Regions from separate parts of the Homo sapiens genome. Here regions 1 and 2 are each linked to region 3. Evidence: fine-mapped QTL for protein levels in blood plasma. Region 3 holds a variant in brackets. A gene starts in each other region. All regions are shown on their reverse strands.

Region 1 (2,853 bases), not on the chromosome of region 3:
CACACCATGGTCTCAGCTCCTTGGGAAGCTGAAATAGGAGATCCCTTGAGCCCAGAAATTCAAGGCTACAATGAGTTCTGATCTAACCACTGCACTCCAGTTTGGATGATAGAGTGAGATCCTGCTTCAAATAAAATAAAATATGATATAAAATAAAATAATAAAATATAAAAATTTCCCAATACACATTGGTATAGAAATTTAGCCCATTTCCATTAAAACAGAAATATCAAGCTTTTAACAACATTCTACACCACTAAGTAGAGAAGAGAATGGGCTGTGGATGCTTCTGGGTCTGGTCCTTCCCCACAAAATACATTTTGCCACAGAAAGAGGATTGTGTAGAAGGTTGTTCCATGGTGATTTTTTCCACATAGCTGATTTGGTTTATTGAGAGCTTCCACTTCACATGTTCATAAAGTAAACAGATTCTAGGAGTTACTTGGAGACATGGCAGCAAATGGTTAACCATTTTTTAATGGTAAAATCTGACCTGAGTTTCTGAGTTCTCAACTCTCTTATAACAGACATTTAGAAGTATCCAATTCTTGAACTCAAAATTAACTATAATTTTAAAATGTGCCTATTGTGTAGACATTGATCTGTGATTATACATTTTGTCACATTGATCAATAAAGCTAAATATAAAAATGAAAATGAACAGAAACTATTGAATTATGCACCACAAGGTGCAATCTATATGCCAATATGAGCATGCAGAAATGTCTGCGTGCTATGTATATGCTACTTGTGATTTATTAATTTATACTTCTTTATTTATATAAACTCAATATTTAAGATTATTGTATTTTAGAATCAGAGGAAATCTGAAATTGTTAGTCCACCCCACTTCATTATTGTGCTATGGAAACAAGCCTGGAATGATTGACATCTTCCATAGATGAACAGAACCAAATAATGATAATTTAGCTTGGAGATCAATATTATCTTTAATTTTATACAACCAGAAAATACAAGTAAATACAGCACATCTTTGAATATAGAAATACCAATGAGTTATGGTGTGTTTGGCCATTGAGTTCTGAAAGTCACTGTGGCCTTGTATTTACAAACATTAAAGATAAAATTATTATCCAAAACAGTAATGTCCAATAGATTATTAATAAACATTTTAGATAGCTGTAAAAAACATTGTGTTCTCTAGAGTTCATAAAAATTATGAGCTTAATTTCAATCCAACAGAAATAATTCTGAAAACTCTAATGTTGTGATGCTAATAATTGGGCTAAGAATTTTCAAACTATTGACTGGCAAAAACATGGATAAATTGTAATATATGAACTTCAAAGAATAAATGCACAATTACAAAACTTGATATAGCAATTTATTTTTAAAAGCCATTTGAGGAATCACCAAATAATTTCAAAATCATGACTAGAAAACCAGCAATGAAATTTGAGACTACTGGTATGACAAATCCTGTTTCAGGCCTTGTTGATCTAGAGTTACTTGCACAACCAGAATTTGCCAAAACAGGAAATAGGTGTTTCATATATACGGCTCTAACCTTCTCTCTCTGCACCTTCCTTCTGTCAATAGATGAAACAAATACTTCATCCTGCTCTGGAAACCACTGGTAAGTGATAACTCCTTTATTTCAAGGTGAACATTATTTATTTCAAGGTGAACAACACATTTATACCTTATCAATGATAAAGTGATATATTCGTATATTTTATCTACAATTTTCCAAAGTTTATTGATAACTTTTAATGAGAGTAATTATCTTAATATATTCATTTTAAGCTGAGAAGCTAATACATAGACAGCTTTATTATTCCAAAAGCACTTTTATCCAGTTTGAAATTTAAATAAATTTTTACCTTTCATTCTAAAGTAATATAACTAATTCCCATGTCTATGACTTGTGGAAACAATTGTACTAGAACTATTTTTAATAGAAAAATGAAAAACTATGAATATATGTGTGTGCATACTTTCACATCAGTAACTTTTACTAATATTAAAACATACAGCTATATGGGATGCCATAGCAAAAGTTTTAAATTGGTCAAAACAAAATTATAGCACTGATCTCAAGATTAAAAAGTATTTTATTAAAGACCATCAACATAAAATGCAATTTACCTCATGAAATGCACTCAGATCAAAAACAAAAAAAAAAGGCTTTTAGAAGTTTTTCAGTCAAAAGTCAGTCTACTCAGTCATGTTTATGTAGGTAATTTAAATATAATATCTATCGTGCATATTTCATCTAAGGAAGCAATTTCCACATACGGCTTTATCTTCCGTAGCATATTAGAAGTGATTCTGAAGAGTCAGATAGTAGGAGACCACAGAACTACCTAATGACAACATGAAAGGGGTTATTTACCACTAGACAGAAGATTTTAAAGTAAAATGCTTTTCTTCCCTGTGGCTAAATGCTATCCAGGAAACTCTGGGAGTATTTGCAATAGCCATAGAAGATCCGGTGTTGCCTCTTCTGCTAGTTAAAACCAAATCTAGAATGTCTGCCTGTATGACTAAGACCTCTGAAAGTGGATCAAAAGAAATTAAATTGATGACAAGTTTCAAGCCTGGGAGTTACCCTACATTGATAAGTTATGAGGTAAATTGGGGCTTCTGATTTGTAACAGGCAGGGATGAATTGGGAGGAAGAGTGTCAGAATTCTCAAGTAATGTAAATCTGATAATTGCTATGAATTTCAGTTACGTTATTTATTGAATTCAAGTAAAAGGGAGGGAATTCATCCTTGAAAAAAAAGTGCTTCTCAAGAAATGCAAGACAGCTATTCTTATTTGGATATCTTTACGAATTTCTTACTTGATGAAGTCTAGCAGTTTTGCAAACTTTGCATATTGGCATAG
Region 2 (2,500 bases), not on the chromosome of region 3:
CGACCCCCTAGGCTGCACCCCACCAAGTCTCCCCACCCTGCGGCCCAAGAGCCCTGCTCTAAGCCACTCCGCAGCAGATCCGCTGGGGCGGGGCCTGAGGACCGTGCTAGGTGCTAGCGTGGCCACCTGCCCCTCCAGGCTGCTCAGCAGCTCTGCTCAGGGTGACCCTGCGATGGCTTGCTCCTTCCTGAAGGGGGGGCTCTCTCTGACTCCAGCCCCTGCCGGGAACACCCCACATTTCCTTTTGAAGCAGGTTGGCTCTTTTAAGGCCACCTCCCTGGAAGCCTTCCATGAAGGCACTGGGTGGGGTTCCAGGCTGGATCCAGTGTCCCCTCCTCCCGCTCCCAGGCACCCCTCCTCTCTCCGTCTTGTTTTCTAACGACTGTGCATGTCCATCCCCACCACTGTCTGTGTGTCTGCATGGAAATGTGCTATAAACGTTGCTCTAAGGAACAGAGGAAGGATGAACACAGATGAATTCCGGGCAGAACAGCGAGGTGAACGACAGGATCCCTCAGCTTTGGCCATCCCTTGCCTGTGACGTCAGTCTGACTCTCACACCCCCAGGAGATGTCGGCCCTCACCTAAACAGGACGGAGGTGACATTGTAGCTCTTGTCTTCTTTCAGCTCATAGATGGTGGCATACATCTTTTGCGGGTCTTTGTCTTCTCTGAGAATTGCATTCCCTGCCAGGCCTACCACATACCACTTCCCCTGGAACTGCAAGGGACTGATAAGAGGCACAACCCAGGAATGGCCCTAGGAGCCACCCCTCCAGCTCTGTCCCTGTGGCACCTCTGGGCCGCCCAGCTTGGAACCATGAGCCCCTCTAGCTGGGCAGCAGGGCCCAGGCTGGGCCTGCACTGGTGAAGGGGCAGGAGCAGGAGGCCATCAGTCCAGAAGGGAGTCCTGGGGGAAGAGGCGGTTCTGAGTCTGGCAGGGAGGAGGGTGACCTCCTCACTGGAGGAGGCATGTGGCTGGTGGGCCTTCCTGAGCCTCAGTTTCCTCATCTGTGCAGGGGGACTAAAAGTGCTCCCACCTTCTTTGGACAATGGGGGTTATGGGAGAGGGGATGTGGACCTGGGGGAGTCTGTTCAGGCTGAGAGGGGGTGGGGATGGGGGGAAGGGGCATGGTTTCCACCAGGGGACCCTGGTGGCACAGAGTGAGCTGAAACCTGGACCCTGGACTCCTAGAGTCCTGCCCAACGCTCTTCCTGAGTCTCTTCACCTCTCCTCCCCTCTGCTCCCACTCTTCCCCAGGCCCTGCCTGCAGGTGCCCCTCTTGGCCCCTTACTTGGTTGTCCTGGAAGTTCTGCTGCAGAGGGACCTTGCTCAGAGGTGGGGCTGGGATCAGGTCTGAGGTGGAGTCCTGGGCCTGGGCATGCAGAGCCCCCAACAGGGCTAGGCCCAGCCACAGGAGACCTAGGGGCATGATTTCAGGGCCGAGGAAGCAGGCGCTGTGGTGGCTGCTGGGCCTGGCAGGGGTGGAAGAGGAGGTGGCGAGTGAGAGGCTCACCTGGGTGGCCCTATTTATGGGATCTAGGGTGGGTTGATTCATTCTTTGCCAAGGCCAGGAATGTGAGGCAATTGCCAGCAACTCCTGCGGAAACACTTGGCAAGATTTCTGCACCTGGTCAGGATTGGGCAAGACAGAGGGACGGGGAGAGTGAGGGACATTCCCGGAGTGCTGCACCTCTGGCAGGGACAACGACTCCCTCTGTGCCTTCCTTGTGCTGTTTCTTTCTTCTGATTGCCCTGTATGTGGGCCGGTGGCCTGTGAGCCGGAAGAGCTGTCATCTCTGACCCCCCTGCTCAGCTGGATCCCAGGGTGGGGTATGTGCCCTGTGGTCCCCTCCCCACACCCACAGAAAGGAAAGAATGAATGCCTCCTTCCAACAGATCATGTGCTGTTTCCTGGTTCTTTTAAGGGTCAGGGAAGGGTGGGGTGGCTGACAGTGGACAAGGAAAAACAAGGCGTCTGCTCTGAACTCATGGAGCCCAGAATCATGGCCCTCCCAGGAGCCCCAGTCCAGGACCTGCATGTGCTCCAGGGGCCTTGAGACAGCCCCTTGCCCCTCTCCTTGCCCCATTTGCAGGAGGGGACCCCAGTGGACCCCTGAGGGACCCTTCCTCTCCTGTGAGTGCAGTGGGAAGAGACCCCACACAGGGCACATGGGTTGAGTGCTGAGGCTACAGTCCCTGTCCTGGGTGAGTTGGGCTGATGTGTGGGGGCGTGAAGGCGCCACACTGCTGCTCTGGACACCTGTTGCTTTGGGTCACTGACAGTGCAAGGATCTGGCCTTATCCTTGAGGTCACTGAGACCATCCCCCTGACTCTAGTCACAGCCTTTTTCCATTGAACCCAGCAGCCCAGGCCAGGGGTTCTGGAACTGTCACCGAGATGGCTGGTCCCAGCCTTGTCCAGCAGGGAAGCAGTTATCTCAACGGGGGCCTGGCTGGCATCCTCGGGAGGCAGCGATGGATCGTAGGCCCTGTGCA
Region 3 (2,853 bases):
ACTAATCAAAATGAGAATACGCAGGGCAGGGAGGTACAGTAGATTGGTGCTGCAGCCAGAGGTCTTATATAAATGCTAACAAGGCAAGAATGGGATTTGGGCTGGCAGAGGCCGCAGAGAGCAGAAGCTGCTGCTCTCATTTCCTCGGACAGCAGCACAGTCTCACTTTAATTTGCAGATGTTTTAAGCTCTAGGTGCAGGCACCTGGAGGGCAGAAGGGAAGCAGCTGTCACCTAATGGATGTAATTGATTAAAACTGAAATTCACATGGACTTCTCCAGTTTCAGATATACCACTCTCTGTTTTGTGCACTCCTGTTTCATTCACTCCTTATTCCTGAAGTTTTTGCTAGGAGAGATTCTATGTCAGAAATGACAAAGGACTTCTCAGCCAAATGTGGTACATTCAGAGGTCAGTGCCTGTAAGAATGGACTTCAGAGCAGAGCAGATCAGGTTTAAGTCCTAGCTGTGTTATCGTGAGCACATATAGCTTCTTTAAGCCTCAGTTTTCTCATCTGTAAAATGGGGCTAATGATAATAGCCAGGGTTTCTATAGGGATTAAAACACATAAATAAAGGTTCAGTTCAGGGCTTGGCATATAGAAGATGCTCAGTACATGCTAGCTATTATTATCATTATCATCGTCATCATCATCATTTCTTGGTTACTTCTTTATGTGGTCATGCTAAACAGTGAACTTCAACCAAGAGTGGCTTAGCAGGGAATGTAGGTTACATAGTTGGCTGCACTGTCATAGGCTTTACTTTCTTCTCTTAGAAAACAAAGCATCCTTTGAAGAAGGAATTGCTTTAGTTTCCCATGGGAAGTAATTTCTACAACCCACAAGTAAATGCAGTCTAATGACTAGAATGTGACAGTAGCTATAAAGAATGAAATGTTCCACAAACAGTACTGCCTCCTAAAATTACTCGATCTCAGCACTGTGTTTAGGTCCTCTCTTCCCCACCCATCTTTTTGCATCTACCTCTCATCCTCCCACCCACCCCACTTCTCCCCTATCCCATCCTTTTGGGATCATAAGACCCACCCACCCATCCCCAAATCCCTGAAGAATGTGGGAGTGTCTTGAGGTTCAGGGTAAAGCTGAAAGGCCTAGAGGCAGCTCTGCTTTTTCAGAATGGCCTGGGGGAGGGGGTGGGGTCTTGATGGCAGCAAGAGGCGGTTTGCCAATAGGCAAACCGGTAGACCATGCCTCATGCATTTTCAGGAAAACATCATTTAATCTCAGAACATCTGCAACAGTCTGCAACATATTTTCTCCAGGGTTTGAGTCTAAGCTGACAAAAGATACCGGACACCCCCACAGATTCTGTGACATATCTTGGTATTATTGAACAAACATCAGTTAGGTTCCTGTCTCAG[T/A]GCAGCGTCAGTCTGAATAGGAAATACGCCAGTGCTCTTATCGTTGCTGACAGACTCTGTAACTCACCTGCTGATAGTGTCAGTAACACAGCTTCCAGTTGGGGGAGGCTCTTCTCCCACTTCTTTGAAAGCATTGTTCTCAGGTAGGCAAAATAATTAAGGTGCTTTTTGAGTTTATGCTTACTTTTTCACAGTAAGCAAGAATTCCATGATCAAGGCAATGTACCTTGCAGACACATAATAAATGTCAATGAATTCAACACATTTTGAAACACACCCAGGGCTCATTTTTCCACTGCTTACACTTTCTTTCTGCCCCCTCAATCATCACATCTCCAAGTCTAAAAAAAGTGTCAGATTTAATGCCTTCATTTTATGGATAAAGAGATGAAGGCCACGACATTATAAATTATTTCATTGTAAACATACAGACAAATAGTAGTCAAGCAGAGCCGAAAGCCCTGGATTTAAGATGCATGAATCAGAGCTTTTCCTATCATATCTCACTTAAATGCCATTCATTTCTTTACTTGTTTTGAAAATGAATCTTATCCCTGTATTTGTTCTGTCTTCTAAATTAGAAACCACATACATCACGAGACATCTTTTGTTTGACCCTTGAAGTTTGAAAATATTTTCTGAATTAGTTAACATTTTTCAAAAACGAGGTTTTTCTGAAACATTTGCATTTCTGGCTTCTCTTAAAATGTGGACTATCTGGCAACACTGGGCTTGCATTCTTGCAAGGCAACACTCCGCTGGAGCTGGGAGGCAATTGTCTCCTTCCGATAGGACTTGCACCCTACAGCTTGCTGCAGCGCCTACCACTCCCTGCTGTCTCACATCCAGCCTGCTTTACTCCTTTATCTCCCTTGCTGCTGTAAGCATTTGAACAGGACCAGGACCCTGAGTTGAAAATATGACCAACAATTTCACGGATATTATTGCTCCAATGTAGATAGCATCTGGGGCCTCCCTACTCCTTGGGAGCTGCCTGAAATTCCCCTGAATCCTTAATTCCGTGGCCTGAAAAATATCCAAAGACTTCCCCAGTAGTTGTGTGAATAGTCATGGATTTATATTCTCATGGTTTTCTTTGCCTCTAGCTCCTACGGTTTTGACCCATGACATTTTTAAAGGATCCAGATTCTTCCTTGATCTCCTCCTTTTACCCCAGGCAGTTCGAGATAATGAGTGGATCTGGGGGGTGGGGAGTGTTACGGAGTAAATATTTTAACAGCACTGCTCATAGCAGATATAACTTACAAATTCATCCTCCATGGAGATTTTTCTCCAGCCTTTTGTCCATGCAGGATCCTGCCATTCTTACTCCTTTCCTACTCCAGTGCCCCCACCACCTCTACTTCAAACTTCCCCCTTTAAATAAAGCAGACAAATACAGCCTCCTCTCAAAGGTGCCGTTGCAAACCCATCAAGGTGCTTGAAGAGCAAAGGCCTCTTCCCTGTTA

Alleles and levels. Positions count from the first base shown, and alleles are read on the strand shown. Strength reflects both the effect of a copy and how common the allele is.
In carriers of allele T in region 3, the plasma level of the protein whose gene starts at base 1,540 in region 1 tends to be lower than with A alone (moderate association).
For the plasma level of the protein whose gene starts at base 1,506 in region 2, T is the low allele of the variant in region 3 and A is the other (weak association).

The links. PIP is the posterior inclusion probability: the model's chance that the variant is causal. The UK Biobank Pharma Proteomics Project read protein levels with antibody pairs (Olink). The fine-mapping took linkage between variants from a reference panel, not from the people measured, so its PIPs are less certain.
Region 1: CRISP3 starts here. The variant in region 3 is fine-mapped to the plasma level of the CRISP3 protein (UK Biobank, PIP above 0.99).
Region 2: it holds the start of LCN2, and the variant in region 3 is fine-mapped to the plasma level of the LCN2 protein (UK Biobank, PIP 0.99).

What each region holds. Positions count from the first base shown.
Region 1 is chr6:49,743,075-49,745,927 of GRCh38, reverse strand. CRISP3 (cysteine rich secretory protein 3) reads left to right here and starts at 1,540. Exons shown (of 8, transcript NM_006061.4): 1 at 1,540-1,597. The coding sequence starts at 1,561.
Region 2 is chr9:128,148,459-128,150,958 of GRCh38, reverse strand. LCN2 (lipocalin 2) reads right to left here and starts at 1,506. Exons shown (of 7, transcript NM_005564.5): 1 at 1,296-1,506; 2 at 585-721. The coding sequence starts at 1,433. RefSeq lists a silencer at 107-156.
Region 3 is chr4:54,541,240-54,544,092 of GRCh38, reverse strand. No RefSeq gene overlaps it. Among named protein-coding and RNA genes, the nearest start is that of LINC02260, 64 kb to the left of the region's middle. RefSeq lists a cis regulatory region at 995-1,606. The variant T/A (reference allele first, on the strand shown) is at 1,385.